Linked DNA regions of Homo sapiens: region 1 is linked to region 2. The links come from fine-mapping of genetic effects on gene expression. Tissue or cell type: tibial artery. Region 2 holds a variant in brackets; the other region holds the start of a gene. All regions are shown on one strand. Distances are from middle to middle.

Evidence for each region. PIP is the estimated chance that this variant, and not a neighbour inherited with it, causes the effect.
Region 1: it holds the start of SLC1A7, and the variant in region 2 is fine-mapped to the expression of SLC1A7 in tibial artery (GTEx, PIP 0.94).

What each region holds. Positions count from the first base shown.
Region 1 is chr1:53,138,254-53,146,423 of GRCh38, forward strand. SLC1A7 (solute carrier family 1 member 7) reads right to left here and starts at 4,385. Exons shown (of 11, transcript NM_006671.6): 1 at 4,062-4,385. The coding sequence starts at 4,196.
Region 2 is chr1:53,088,048-53,096,047 of GRCh38, forward strand. SLC1A7 (solute carrier family 1 member 7) reads right to left here. Exons shown (of 11, transcript NM_006671.6): 6 at 5,414-5,513; 7 at 4,507-4,740; 8 at 2,565-2,759; 9 at 1,753-1,887; 10 at 830-932; 11 at 1-180. Among named protein-coding and RNA genes, the nearest start is that of PODN, 30 kb to the left of the region's middle. RefSeq lists an enhancer at 6,839-7,376. The variant T/C (reference allele first, on the strand shown) is at 3,765.

The sequences.
Region 1 (8,170 bases), 50 kb after region 2:
TTTGGTAATTTCATGGTGATGGGCCATAGTATGGGGTTTTCTTTCTTTTGTAAACAAAATTGACAGTGCTATGCTTGCCTTTCACTTCTGAGAAACTGCTTAGATTCTCTGCAAACTGTTTCTCCTCTATTTTTCTTCTGTTAGCTGTCTCTAAAAGTGTCATTAGGTAGCTGGACATTGAACATTCTAATTTTCTTATATTTTCTTTTTCTATTTTCATTTATTTTTGTTCTAGTTTCTGGGAGATTTCTACAACTTTATCCCAGTTATTGACATTAATTTTTTTTTTTTTTTTGGAGATGGGGTCTCACACCATGTTGCCCAGGCTGGCCCTGAATGCCTGGGGTCAGGCAATCCACCCGCCTTGGCCTCCCAAAGTGCTAGGATTACAGGCATGAGCCACCAGGCCTAGCCAAAGTTTTTATATTAATATATAATATTTGTACATATTTATGGGATACAGTTGGTATATTGTTAAATACACTGTGTAATGTTCAAATCAGGGTATTCAGGGTCTCCAACACTTCGAGTATTTATCCTTTCTATGTGTTGGGCAGCTACTCACATTTTTATCTTAGTTCTTCTATTTTTAATTTCCCCAGATTCTTTCTTGTTCTCTGATTGTTCCTTCTTTTCACATCCCCTCTGTTGTACGGTAACTATATCTTCACTCGCAGCTCCAGAAAGCTTAAGAGGAGATTTACAAAGCTTCCTTCTCCTCCCCGCCTTGTCTCTGCTTCACTAGAGACCCACTTTTCTCTTTGTTTCTCTCATTAGAGACCCCCTTTTCTCTTCGTTTACTCTGTTTCACATTAGGAGCCTCCTCACATTTCTGGTGGCGTGGCTTTCTGCTCGTATGTAAGTTTGAAGCGCTAAACTTCTGCATGTATGAGTAGGGTTTGTCAACTGACGGCCCTCAGGGCAGGGTGACAGGTGCTGATCTGGCTTTTTCACTGGGGCTGGGTGGGATGGTAGAGGAGTCTCCTTTATAGCAGAATTTAGAGATCTTTTCTCTGAGGCCTCAGTGAGAGAAGTCTCTTCCTGCCTTTGGCTGAGGAATGACATGGTGCCTAAGCTCAGCTGACAGCGATCTGAAACCGTGCTGGGGACCCCACTCAGACAAGGATGTCTGTTAATTAGTTTGAAGTAGGTGCCTCAGCATGGCCCTCTCCCCAACACACACAGGGGTGGCCCAATACCCTCAAGTCCAGCTTCTCTGGTTCCTTGGGGCAGGCAGTGGGTGGAGATGGGTGGATGAGTCCCCCAACTGAATTGGAAGGTCCCTAGGGGTCTAACTGCTCTGGTTACAAAACTCCAAACCATGCCCAGGCTTTCAACCCCAGCCTCACCCTGCCTAGTGCAGCATCTTGCTCTGTTACGTTCTGGAGTCTGCAAGACAAACTGACTTGGTATCAACTTCCACAGACTAAGATTCCAGCTTTCTGTGAATGAGGTCATCAGCTCCACCCACCTCCATATTATCTAATTTGTTGTAGCCTCTCTATTTCTTTTTCTCAACTGTCTCCTTTTATATTCTCTTTATTCTTGGTGGTTTTACCTTTTAAAAATCCCATTACTAAAATGTTAGTGGAATTCTAGGAAGGAGGGAAAAAAATGGATACACCTGTGATTCACCATGGTTTAACTGGAAGTCTCAAAATGCTCAGTATTTTTAAATGAGACACTCATACACCAAGATAAAATCCTGTGATTTTATCAAGGATAAAAGTTCTTTTTCACAAATAGAACATTCTACCATTTTCCATATTGTTTATGATTTTTGCCTGTTGCATAAGCTTACAAAACAAGAAGTGTTTAGTTTCTGAGTCACAGGCAAAGAGATCAAACAGAGAAATCCCAGATTTCAAAGTAAGATGCTGAGAAAGCCAGTTTCTGCCAAATAATTGTTCTAAGCCTCTACATCCTTCCTTCAATTTATCTGGCAGGTTAATCCAGACTGGAATACATTTGCATTTCCAAACAGATGGGAAAGGCAGCTTTGGCAAAGTAGGCCCCAGATGAGTTTGGCTTTTAATAATAGGCATTCCAATTTGTTTTCACAAAATAATCTTCCTGCAGGAGATATATTTTTGTTGCTGAGGAAAATTAAAGAGAACAGATTGCAGATTTTTTTGTTCCATTGCCAGTTTAATGCAGCAGATAGTTGAGCGTTCTCTCTGTGCCTGACACAGGGCTAGGCTCACGTTTTGGTTAAAAAAAAAAACAAACCCATATGTTGTTCAGCAATATGCAGCTTGGTGGGAGAAAGAGACACCCATATAACCAGCTCTGAAGCCAGGCAGCCAGCAGCGGGGTTACAGTTACTTTCATCAGCTATGGATGATGAGATGGTTCCTGATGTAGATAGGACTTTAACAGGTACATAAGGGAGGGAGGGGGAAGTAACACGTAGTAAGCACCTACTGTATGCTGGGCATTGATGAATCCTTGGTTTATTCCTCATAATAATTCTAGTAGACATATACTGCCCCACATCCCATTTTACAGACAAGGAAACTGAGGCCCAGGGAGGAGAGAGGATATTGCCTAGCCATTTGCTAGCAGAGTCAAAGTTCAGGGTTTCTCTGCCTCCAGAGTCCATGCTTCTTCCTAAATAACTGCTCGAGGCTTAACAGGGTCACTATAGTCGTGGCTCAGTTCTCCAGGAGTGGGTGTTTTCCTTTTAATGGAAGACAAAGTCTAATGCCTGACCCCAGTTGTAGAGATGGCATTAGACATTAGTGAGCTGCGGGAAGAGGACTTTCTGGGAATAGGGACTCTTCCAGGAGCCCATTGACAAAGCCTCTCTCCTTGACCACACTTTAGACAGGCTCCTCTGAGCCCTCTTTTCCACTGGGCTTTGTCCTTGGGCCTTGTCTTCAGCCTGCATAGTCCAGCTGTAGCAAAAGTCCTGCCAAGTCAGTTTAGTGAGGATCCCTCACCCTCCAGCATCCTGATACTGGATCAAATTCCTCATCCCAGATCAATGTCTGATCACCCTGGCCTGCCTTCAACAAGAATCCCCCTACCCTGATGTCTCCTGTAGTCATTTTCTGTCCCCGACCCCCTCCCTCTGCTCGCTGGCTATAAATCTCCAGCCATCTTTGTTGTATTTGTGGTTGGGTCCCATCTCTCTCCCCAGGAGGTCTTGATAACTACCCCCCTACCACAATAGTCCTGAATAGAGCCTTCCTTACCAGTTTAACTAGTGGCAGAATGATTTTGTCCTTAACACCATGGGAATGTCCCTCCCTCTCCTGTAGGAGATGGGGGCTGACAGGGAAAGGGGCTCTTTCCCAGGAAACGCAGCTTCTTCATGGCAGTTACACAGGCTGGAAACCCGGGGCCTGGCTCCCCTTCCTGTCCCCCAGCCCACATCCAATCGGCCCCCACATCCTGAAGCTCCCCCTTTTGAAAACAGTTCTCACGTCTGTCCCTTTTGTCTGCACTGCCGCATCTCCCCCAGGCTGCCCCTTCTCGGCCCCCTGCCTGCCCCAGAATCACCCCCTCTCCACTCAGCACCTGAGGGGTCTCCCAAGCTCCAAACTGGCCTGTCGCTCTTCTGCCCAAAAGCATCTCATGGTTGCCGCAAGCCCACGTGTGGCGATGGGACCTATGGGCCTGCTGGCCTCTGCGCTCCGGCCGCTGCACCTGGCATCTGCTGTCACCTCTGCCTAGAGCACGCTTCCTGGATCTCTTGTCATTTGAGCAGCCTTTAGGAGGTGTTCTCTGGTGCCTGTTTGAACTCACACAAGACCCCCCTCTTTCCCCGCCACAGCTCTTGGCCCTGTGTTTGTCATCATGAGGCACCCTCGCCTCTCCTCACCTGATGGTGCTGGGTTTGTAATCACTCCCCAGCCACATCACTGGTTCTTCCCTCTAGTCCTGCAAAGTGTTTATCACACCCATGTTACAGATGAGAAAACCAGGACCCAGAGAGGCAGAGGGATTCACACACTGTCATGGCACCAGGGAGCTGTGATGCTAGAACGGGACCCCAGATCCCTCAGGCCCACACGCCCCTCCTGGACAGGGGTCCCGAGATGCTCTGGGTGGCTGACCTGTGGTGAGAGGCGCCGGGTCCTCAAGAAGAAGCCGAGGAGGCAGCCCACGATGACAGACAGCACAGACAGGATGAGGAGTCCATTCCGCCTGCACACGTCCCTCCCCCGTGCCAAGATGGCATGCGGCACCATGGTGAGCCTGGCCTGCTGGCAAGGGGCACAGCACCATTCCACGCATGAGAGCCCGGCCGGGGGCACAGGGTCTGGGCTGAGGGCTCTAGCCCCTCAGCAGGCAGGTGGTCGGAGTTGCTAAACACCAGTCGCCAGCCCCACGGCCATGCCCGTGTGGCCGCCTTAGAGGGAAGCCACAATCCTATTACCAGCTGCATCATTAGGAGCTGGGAGCAGATTAGGGCCTGGGAAATTAGAGCAGACCACGTGGTCTAGGAGTTCAGGCCTCAAAGCCAAGCGTTCCTCTTAAACAGTTGAGTGGACCAGGTACTGGAAGGAACAAGAGGAACATTTGCTTGGTTGGTTTGATCTTTACCCCTGCTTCCTTCCAGAAAGAATCAAAAACAAGACAGTAAGATATCAGTTTCCCTCAACATTAATTAAGCATTTACTATGCACCAGGTGCCATTCTAGAAGAGTGTTACATGTACTGGCATATTTAATCCTAACACCAATCCCAAGAAATAAGTACTATTAATATCACCATTTTACAGATAAAGAAACTGAGGTGGGTGGGTGCATGTGCTGCGGGCCAGGCCTGTGCTGGCTGCCTTAGCTATGCCAATCATAGGGAATTGTCCCAAAGATCCCAGGGTTCCCACCTTCATTTTTCAGAAAGGGAGGCTGAGACCCCAGAAGCCAGTCCCTTGGCCATGGTCACAGAGGTCAGAAGTCAGGGCTAGGCCAGTCTGTTTCCACCACATGAACAGGCAGATAGGTTCAAGGGTGCTTGGCAGTATTGTGGGGAATGTAGATTCGAGTCCAGGGGACCTGAGTTCAAAGGTGGGCTGTGCCACTCACCGGGAAATGGGACGTAGATGCTTCAGGGCTGTTTCAAGCCTGGTGCTGGGCACCCTGCAGGCTCTCTGGGCCTATTATTTTTTAAAGATGACAGAGCCCAAGAGACCCACATTCGGGTCCCAGCTCTGCCACTTACTAGCTGTGTGACCTCAGACAAGCATTTCATCTCACTGTGCCTCAGTTTCTCCATCTGTAAAATAGAGATGATAACAGCATCTACTTTGTTAGGGCTGGTACAAAATTCCACCCAGAGGGTATTTGGAAACGCAGTGTGAACCCTGGTGTGCTGAACAGGGGAACGGACTCTTAGGGTCATTATCACACTTAGTGCTTTGGAGAATAGGTGTCTTTTTGCTATTTCTTGTGGCCTGGCCTGCCCTGCCCTGTAAAGCCTGGGGGAATTAACCCTCGTCTATTTCACCAGAGATCTGTAATCTCATTAGGAGCAGTCAGGCAGCAGGCAGCAGGGAATGGGAAGTGCAGTCTGCAGTGAGGGTGGGAGGTAAAGGGTGGGGTGCACACAGGGGCTTCCTCCTCCTGACATAGGAGACAGGGGCAGAGGATGAAGAGGACGGGCCAAGTGGGGCATAGGGGAGAGGTGGGGAGAGGGGACTGGGGCACAGGCTCTGAAGCCATGGACAGAGCTCCTGACTGAGAAGATTCTGATCCCAATTTAATCAGCTCTGTGACCTTGCCGTCTCTGGGTATCAGTCTTGTCCTTTTTAGAATGAGAGAAATGGGCCCAGGTACCTTTGTCAAAGGAACTTCATTTCAACAAACCAATCTTCCAAAGCCCCTGCTCTTTGCAGTAGCTTGGGGTGGGGGGTGGGGGTGAATACAAGTCTGAGAGTTTTTTTTCCTCTGACTTTGACTCTTAAAACCAAAAGTTTCTTGCTACACCTTCAACTCCAACAAATGCCTCATTTTCCAAATAATCAGGTGGTTAGTTACTTCCCAGAAGAGAAAATATGCTAAGTAGGTATTTGGATTTGGGTTTTGATCAACTCCTGGGCTCAAACAATCCTCCCATCTTGGCCTCCTAACGTGTTGGGACTGCAGGCATGAGCCACCACACCCAGCCCAGACCTGGCCTTTAGCTGTGCCATGATATAGGTGAGTCTTGCTTTCTACCACAGCTCCATGACTCCCATTCCCAGGACGTGCCCTATAGCCACCACTGACTCCTCTCTCCCACAGGCTGAGCCTACCACTACCTGCCTACCAGACTACAGCCATTCTTTCCACTGTTCCTACGGTCTTCAACAGGAGAATTTCAACTCACTCTAGCAAATGTTCTTATAGCACCATTTAGTGTGCCACACCCCCTGGGTACTAGAAACACAACAGTGAATCAGACAGTACCTGCCCTGCCTTCAGGAAGCTTATAAGAAAGTGGAGAGACCCCAAGAACGGACTAATTCACACTAAAGTGTAAGTGACTGATAATGAGTTTACTAAGAATATTTGCAAATCAAATCAAGTCTCCTGGGTCAGAACCCTATAATAGTTCACCATTGACAAAGAATCAACTGCCTTTTACAATGTCACTAGATGTGCAAGACAATTTTTCCATAATTACATCAAAAGGAAGTTTGGGAAATGCTGGACGAAACAAAAAGTTAAGCACGTTATTTCCTCTGAGACAGCTCAAAGTCAGACTGCTAGAGTTAAAACCTCAGCTCTACCTTCAACCAGCTGTGTGACCTTGGGAACATTTCTTAACTTCCCTGTAAAATGGGGATAATGCAACAGTACCTAGATCATAGGGTTTTGATGTGGGTCATACAGTGCTGCATGCGCCATGGTTAGAGCGTGGCCCAGTGCCTTGCAGATAGCCCCAGGTAGTTACTATGAAAGTCTTTACAGTAGCGGCTGTGTCGGAGGAAGTCACCAAGTGGAGAATAGAGAATCCCACCCCTCCTCTGGAGCAGAGAACTCCCTGGGCCTGGTGTTTGGAGAACACGCCTGGGAAACCCCGGTCTGCAGCATCGAGTCTATGCTCCCCTGCAAGGCACTTTCACCCTTTTCCTCACCCTTTCAGCATTACCTCCTACTCCTTCCGTCACCCCTCCAGCTCCTATGACACCAAACCACTGCAGGGTCCTGGAACGCTGCATCCTGTCTCAGGCTTCTGCACCTTTGCCTGTGCTATTTCCTTGGCCTAGAATGTCCTTCCTTGTCACGAAAGTTACAGGTTAAATCCCCCTCTTCTTCGAAGCCTTCCCTGATTACCCTAGATACAATACCTTCTCTTTTTCTCACTCTAACTCAGGCCCTTCACAGTCACCAGCTGGGGATTCACCTAGCTCCCTTTTAAGTGGCTCTGACAAGGAAATAAGAATCTATGAAAATAAAATCAAATCTCTGTTTGTTACCATGTCATTTGAAATCACCTCAATGGAGAATCCTCAAAGTTGGAGGGTATATTGGCAGGGGCAGCGGGGTGCTAGGGATAGCCTGAGGAGCAAGGTGTTGTATAATGGGCAGCAGGCGGCCTCAGAGATGCTTCTGGGGAGGCTTGAGCTGGACAGACTGAGATGCTATGGCAAAGAAGAGACATGGTGTTGGCGAAAATGAACGCCAAGTCACAGGTGCAGCTGCCTCACCCTGCAGAAGCAGGTGTGCAGTTGAGCTGTTCTTCACCGGGCCCTCTGCTTGGGTTATGCTGTGGGGAGAGCAGCAGGGGTTGACTTATTTGCTAATGATTAATGATTAATGATTCGCCAGGGCTACAGGCAGGGCCAACCCAGCCTGGGAAGGCGGGGATAGGAAGGCTTCCCAGAGGAGACGTGGTTTAGGCAGAGGCCTCAATAAGCCAGGGAAGGGGGTGCTGGTCAAGGGAGAGGGGAGACGACAGTCTGATTTAGGCCGGAGGCGTGACAGCAGGGCCTCCCAGGGCTAGCAGTGCATCGGTGGGCTGCAGTGGCCATCGGGGCTGGGGCCTTACACCTTCCACCATGTGTCAAAATGAGTTTAGGTCTGGCCGGGTGAGCTCCCATCTGGGTCTGTCGTGACGACAGCTCGGGGTATGTTGGCTGCTTTCCAGAGACATACCAGAGGCGCCTTAATCTCCCTGACACGTCTTCCCAGCTCGCTGGAAGCTGGGCCCTTCCGGGAAGGTTTTCTGTGGGCAA
Region 2 (8,000 bases):
GTGGTTCAGACTCGCAGCGGGCAGCTCCTCATCCTGCTCCACTTGAACGGGGACGTGGTGGGGGCAGGTGGGGCCCAGGGTGAGCTCGGAGGCCTCGGCTACACTCTTCACACAGCCATTCTGCTGGGCTGCCACGATCTCCTGGAGGCTCACTGGCTTGGTCTCGCAGGGCAGCAGTTTCTGGTGAAGGGAAACAGGTCTTTGTAGCAGCAGGAGGGACCAAGGTTAGATACGAGGGAGGACTGAGGGCCAGTGGGGCAGAATGAGCTCAGGGCTAGGAACCACAAGATGGATTTTCCTGCAGACACGCTGTGTGACCTCGGCAGGTCACGGCCTCCCTGGGCTCCTGTTCCCAAGCGTCCTGCCTCCCACTGGAGCTGGCTTAGTAGAGGAGGGGACTTAATCCACAGGGTCCATCTGGGGAATTGGTGGATCCCCTGCCTGACCTCAGCTTCTTCCCCATGATGTGGGGACAGCCTTCTCCATTTGCCTGTAGAAGGAGCCTGAAGCCCACACAGCCTGCACAGACCTACAAATGCTCACATGTTGGCTAAACTGGACAGACCATCCCGACACGAGGGCGGGGAATTTTATCATATCTTGTTCTACTGTTCCTCCTGTGTCTATATCAGCGCCAGCCACAGCGGGTGCTCAATAAATAGATGTTAGAGGAATCAGTCATTCTGTAACGGATGAGGAGACCGAGGCCCAGAGGCATGGAGGGAGGGATTGGCTGGAGGCTGCCGAGCTGGTTGGTGGAAGATCTGGTGCCCTGCCCACCCTGCGTGGCTCCACCCTCCTGGCAGCCTCTGGATCTCACTGCTCTCACCTCGGTGCCTGTGTCCCGGGCAAAATCCTTCCGACATATATGGGCCATGATCCCCGCTGCCAGCGCATCACCCAGCACGTTAATCATGGTGCGGAAACGGTCCCTGGTGAGCCAAGGTTGGGGGTGAGTGGTGGGCACTTGAAGGGGAGCTGGAAGAGGGCAGTGCTCAACCCAGCACAGTACAGCACGGCCGGTGACCAGCTGTCATGCAAAGCCTGCAGCCAGATGGCTTCCTGGCTCCTCCCAAGCCCACCCTTTGGCATCATTGAAGCAGCTTCTTGGCATGCAGCTGTGGGTTCCACAGGTCCCCATGCTTAGAAGGGTTAGGTTTGGTTTAATCCTCTGCTGTTTCTGTCTTGAAATTCTTTATAGGTTTGTTTTTTGTTTGTTTGTTTGTTTGTTTTTTGAGACAGAGTCTTGCTCTGTCACTCAGGCTGGAGTGCAGTGGCGCCATCTCGGCTTACTGAAACCTCCATCTCCCAGGTTCAGGTAATTCTCGTGCCTCAGCCACCTGAATAGCTGGGATTACAGGCACATGTCACCAGTCCCAGCTAATTTTTTCTTTTCTAATTTTTAGTAGAGATGGGGATTTTACTGTGTTGCCCAGGCTGGGCTCTGGAATTCCTGGGCTCAAGGAATGCTCCTGCCATGGCCTCTCAAAGTTCTGGGACATATAGGCGTGAGTCATCATGCCTGGCCTTTACAGTTTTTGGACTGGGTTCCACATTTTCATTTTTGAACACTGGACCCCACAAATTATGCAGCCAGGCCTGTGCTAATGAGTAGGGCACTCCCACAGTGCCAAGCGGGGCAGTCCCCAGCCTTCTACCCTGGGGAAGGGACTCAGCCGCTCACCCTGATCCCTGCTGACCCTGAAGTCAGCCCCTCCCAGAGGGCTAGAGCTAGAGGCAAAGTCCACTCACAGAGCCCAGTCAACGGCAATGATGAGGGTGATGTCATCGGTGGGCAGTCCCACGGAGGTGAGCACGATGACCATGGTGACGAGGCCGGCCTGGGGGATGCCAGCTGCCCCAATGCTGGCTGCAGTGGCTGTGATACTGCAGGGGGTGGGAAGGGGAAGAGGAGCAGCAGGAGGGGCAGGGTGCATTGTCAGGGTCTGGCTCCAAGGAAGAGGTTGAGTGTCAGGGCCTCTGGGACAGCCATTTGGTGCGGGGGGTGGGTAGGAATGCCACACCAGGGAGCTCTCGGGGTCAAGTCCCTCCTCACAGTCCTGAAGCCCCATGGACCCCCATTCCTGGCCTCAGGAGAATCCCTGGGAACTGTGCAAACACCTGTGTCTGGAGCTGTGCCTCTGTGGGTTCCAGGAAGCTATATTGCTATGGGGCTGCCCAGGGACTCTGACTGACCACCACATGGCTCTGCCTGCCTGCCTCTGGGGCCTGGCCTCCAGGGTCAGACCTGTGTGCTTGGCTGGGCTGTGAGGCCTCCGTCAGCCTCAGCCGCATCCCAGCACCCCTTCGTTGGCTCCTGCCACACGGGCGGCCTCTCCAAGGTCCTGAGTCCTGTCCCTGGCCTCCGCTCGCCCTGTGGCCACCAGCAATGCCCTCCCTCCCGGGCTGTCCTCCAGGCTCGGAGCTCCCAGCCCTGGCCCTCTGCCTGCTGTGCTCCGAGCCCAGGCTCGCTCGCTTCAGATACCCCTCAAGTCTGGGAGCCTGGGAATCCCCAAGGCCCCCAGCCCCCGCCCCATCCACCCAGGTGCAGTGTCAGGGTGCACCTGATGGTGATGATCTGGCCAAAGTCCAGCTCGTAGTTGTTGACCTGGGCGATGAAGATGGCGGCCACAGCCTCGTAGAGCGCAGTGCCGTCCATGTTGATGGTGGCACCCACGGGCAGCACGAAGCGAGCGATGCGCCGGTCGATGTGGTTGTTCTCCAGCAGGCACTTGAAGGTGATGGGCAGTGTGGCTGAGCTACGGTTAGAGGGGCCGGTGTCTGCCCAGCACCCTCCTCCAGGATGGCTGGGGCCTCTGTCGGGAAGCTCACCCCTCCCCAGGCAGCCACCCCGCCAGGAGTGTTTGTGCCTCTGCAGCGCTGCTCCGGCAGGAGGTAAGGACCGCGGGCACTGCAGTGCTCTCACTTGGTTCTTCCTATGAGGGAGGTGTTTGGGTGCATTTTACAGATGAGGAAGCTGACGCCCAGAGGGCGGGGCTGACCCATGTCACACTGCTGTGCCGAGGGATATGGAGGTCTGAGCAGCAGGGCCCTGGGCCAGGCTGTCTGGGCTTAGATTCCAGCCTCCTGTCAAGTGGTCCTGGCAAGTTCCTGAACCCTGTGCCTCAGCATCTTTGTCCCAAAAAGACCTGGGTCACAGAGCTACTAGGAGGATTAAACGACTACGGGCTTGGACAGCACCTGGCCCATTGTACCCACTCAGTCAATGGTGACCATGACTATTATTATTACTATGTTTGTCATGAGAGTTCCCAGTGGCAGTGCTGGGACTAAAACAGGCCGGTGTGGCCCCTGTGTCTTCCTCTCCCCCGGGCCTCTGCCTGGAAGGCCGGTTCTACTCGCCAGAGCCTCTCAGGAGCTCCAGACCTGCTGGGCTTGAGGCTGCGGTTCCTGCTGGCAGGAGATGGCCAGGGGGCTGCTGGCTCTGGCTGGCTTGGCCCCTGGCATGGGAGCTGGCATGTTTGGGGCTTTGTCCTGCCCTCTGACCCCCTATCTGCGGGAGGGTGTTCCTGGCAATGGCTCCTGGGCTTTTCTTCACTGGGGTCTGCTCCTGAATCCTGCAGGAGGTGCATCTGCTGCCAGGGGTGGGTGTCATATGACTGCTGGGTACAGAGGCCTGCAGGGCATTTTACAGATGGAAAAACTGAGACCCAAGTGAGGGCTAGAGGGAAGAGTGAGGCCTTCAGTGCCAGAAAGATGTGGCTTAAGTTCCTGCGACTCCCTTAATGTGGAGCTCAGACACT[T/C]GCCATGGGGAGAGCCAAACTGCCTTCACAGCACTAGATGCTCCATAAGGGACCACTTCCTTCCTGCCCCCTCCACCAACGACATGGTTTGCACAACTCTAAATTCCTGAGGTCTCTGCACTGGGCTGAGGTTTGGGATCCTTAAGGCCAAGTGCTGGTTCACCTGGCCCAGCCTGGCAAGGAGGGGCTCGACCTCCACTGCAACCCTGTGAGCTGGAAGCTGGAGTCTCCCCCAGTCTGTGCATGAGGAAAGCAATGCCCAGGCACAGCGAGTGAGTGACAGAGCCATGGCTCAAGTCCCTGAGGTCTAGGGACACTGCCAAGGTTGTGACAGGGCACCCAGCCAGGACATCCCAGCGGCAGTGGACAGGCCGAGCTCCTAGAGCAACACAGGGCCCGACTCCAGGAGAAGCACCTTGTGGGGCAAAAGGCAGCAGCAGTGCGTTGCCAATGTGATTTCCCACTGACTCTACTGTGCTGTCTGCCCTGGCGCGTCGAGGCCGCCCCCATGCGGACTCAGTGAGCTTGAGGACTGGGGCCGTGGGGGAAGGAGAGGCCTCGACAAAGGCCAAAAGTCCCCCACGTCAGTCTTGTTACCCCAGCACCAGCCGTCCCCGCATTTGTGAGGTGGGCCACACTGGCGTTTTGGTGGTTCTGTGGCTATGAACCAATGATGGCTGGACAGACGGACAGGGCTCAGCCCCTCCCAGCTCCCCACCGTCCTGCCCGTCCCCGGGGCTACCTGGAGGAGGTGGCCAGCGCGATGAGCAGAGCCTGCAGGATGCCACGGATGAAGACGATGGGATTCTTCTTGGTGATGAAGAAGTAGAGCAGGGGCAGGATAAAGAGCCCGTGGAGCACCAGCCCGCACACCACGGTGACTGAGTAGAAGCCCAGCTTCTTGCCGACGGCCCTGGGGTCGTCCATCTCCAGGATCTTACCCGCAATGAGGAACACAATGCCGAAGGGGAAATACCTGGGGGCGGCGGGGCAGCCAGGCTCAGGAACCAGGCAGGCAGACACACCCCGGCCCCAGCCCCGCATCGCTGCGCGGCCTTCCCCCTGAGCTTCCTGGGGCTCCTGCGAGGACAGAGCGAGACTGCCAAGGTGCCCGGCCCAGGCTCAGCACATGGCGTCCTTCATACCGTTACTTCCACCGCCCCAGCTCCAGACAACCTCTGCCACTCCTTCCCCCGCCCTGCCTTCAGGAGGCCCCCATTTCAGGCCCAACAACGCCAGAGTCTACACAGTGCGCCTGGGCAGCCCTCCCTCTGCGTTCCCCACTGAGCTCCTGGACTCTGAACTGTGGGCCGAGGACTCTGAACTGTGGGCTAGTCCTTACCGCCAGCTTTCCTTTCTCCAAAAGCTGAGCTGATAAGGCTCCATGTGATGGAGAAACTGAGCCCAGGAGAGCAGCAGAGCCGGGCAGAGCTCTTAGACCAGGCTGGAAGGGGCAGGCCCAGGGCCGGAGCCAGGCCTGGCTGGGGCTGGGGGACCCATGGAAACACATGTAGCTCCGGAGGCCCCGGCCCAGGGCTGAGCCTGGGCACAGCTTTCTGCTCACTTTACGGGAGAAGAGGGTGGGGTCTTGTCTTCCCTCCATCCACCCAGGGCTGGCCGGGGTGAGGTGGGTAAATGAGGAGGCTTACCACACAGCCACCGCCACGATCTTCATGACCGACTCATTGAGGCACTGGCAGAAGCTGACCAGGGGGGCCCCGCTGTCACCCATGCGGCCCAGCATGATGCCTGCGGGTCAGGGACACAGTGCTGTGGTAAAGCAGGGACAGACCCACAGGCCCACATGGGTCTCAGCATGGCTGGCTTCCCAGCAGCCTTGATGCTCCAGCACTCCCCCCACTCCCCCCACTCTCTCTCTCCCTCTCTCCTCCTCCACTCTACTACCGATCCCACAGTGCTCTCACGTCCTCCTCTCTCACCTTCCTCCACGCAGCAGCCAATGTCACCTCCTCAGGATAAAAGTGCTCCCTGCCAAGTGCACCCCTGGCTTCGCTGTGCGCTTAGGCCATGACAAGCTCCCCGCTGCCTCACCCAGCTCGATGCCTCAGCCCCACTCGAGTGGGCCCTGCCTGCCTCTCCCTCCTGCTCCTGCCCATCTCACTGTGCCCTGGCACCACTGGCCTTCTTTAAGTTTCTGGAAGGAGGGAGTCCAGCTCTTCACTGCCTCAGGGCCTTTGCGCAAGCCGTTTACACAGTGCCCCAGGCACTGGCTGCCCGCTCTCCAAACAGCTTGGAAGCCATCCCCGATCCCCTTTGCAAACTCCCATTTATTCTTCAATATCTCACCTCTTAGGGCCTATTACAACATAACTGTCTGGGTTTTTTCCCGTCTCCTCTGCGAGGTTAGCTCAGCGAGAGCAAGAACTGCATCTCCTTAGCTGGAGCATGTTAGACGCACAGTGGTCAATGGTGAGTGAGGACTAGGGCCTTTCCTGATGCTCCTGGCGCCTCCCCCGGCATTCTAGGCCTTCCTCCCCAGCTCGCACACACCAGGAAAGGGTGGTGTGGGAACGGCTCCGTGGGGTGAGCTCTGTCAGGCCAGTCCTGAAACAGGGACTGAGTGGCTGCCCTACCTCCTGGTGAGACCGACGTGGGGAGCAGAGCACTCTCTACAGCTGCCCTCATGAGGCCCACTGTCATGGTGCTGGGGCTCAGCTAGGGAGGCAGGGTGGGATTCAAACCCTGGCCTGTGGGACACCAGAGAAGGGCTCTTTCCCTGTCCTGAGAAGCCTGAGCCACACAGTCCATGGAGCAGCTACCCCGTGGTGACGGAGTGAGGTGAGGGCCCTGCCAGGGTGGGTAGGAGAGGCTGGAGTTGGAGGTGACCCTGGGCCTACCCCGCCCGCCTGTCTTCCTGCCGCCTGGCTGATGCAGACCCAGACTCCCCTGCCGGCTCCGCCCTCCCCGGGCTCCACCACCACCACGCACGGGCTTCCTGCCCCTCCTCAGGCCCATTTGGATTTTCCCAGGGGCATCCGAGGACTGGCTGCTGGGAGCCAGTGTGCATGGAACCCTAGTGTGGCACGGGGGCTCCCTCACGGCAGGGCCAGCAGGACCTTAGCACCAGCCACATCCCAGGGATGGGGTGGGGAAAGGAGGCTGGGTTGAGGGAACCAAAGAAAGCCCTGCTCGGAGCCGCTGTGCTAGTGTGCTCACTCACACACGCGGGCAGACACTGGTATCTGCACCAACAGGCACAGGCACCGGCAGATGTGGACACTGACAGGCACAGGCACACACAGAAGCAGGTGCACACAGACACAGGCACGGAAAGACCAGGCACACGCTGATGCGGGGACACAGGAATGCAGCTGCACCCAGACATGAGCACAGGCAGATGTGGGCACACGCAGGCATGAGCACACACAGACGCAGGTGCACATAGACACAGGCACAGGTAAGCCAGGCGCATGCTGATGGGGGAACACAGGGACACAGGTGCACACAGACACAGGCACGGAGAGGCCAGGCACACACTGATGCAGGGACACAGAGATGCACGTGCACACAGACACAGGCACTGGCAGATGTGGGCACATAAAGGCATGAGCATACACAGTAAGCCACACCCTGCCTTGGTACACTCACACACCCTGCCTTGGTACACTCACACACCCCGCCTTGGTACACTCACACACCTTGCCTCAGTACATTCACACCGCCTCGGTACACTCACACACTCTGCCTCGTTACACTCACACCGCCTCGGTACACTCAACTCGCCTTGGTACACTCACCCTGCCTCGATACACTCACACACCCCGCCTCGTTACACACACACTGCCTTGGTACACTTAAACCCGCCTCAGTACACTCACACAACCTGCCTAGGTACACTCACACACCCCAGCTCAATACACTCACACACCCTGCCTCGGTACACACACACAACTTGCCTCGGTACACTCAACTGCCTCGGTACACTCACTCCACCTTGTTACACTCACACACCCCACCTCGGTACATTCACCCCGACTTGGTACACTCACACACACTGCCTCGGTACACTCACACACACCACCTCAGTACACTCACACCACCTTGGTACATTCACATCGCCTCGGTACACTCACACAACCCGCCTCGGTACACTCACACAAACTGCCTTGGTACAGTCACACCACCTCGGTGCATTCACACACACCACCTTGGTACACACACACCCCGCCTCAGTACACTCACTCCACCTCAGTACACTCACACAACTCGCCTCGG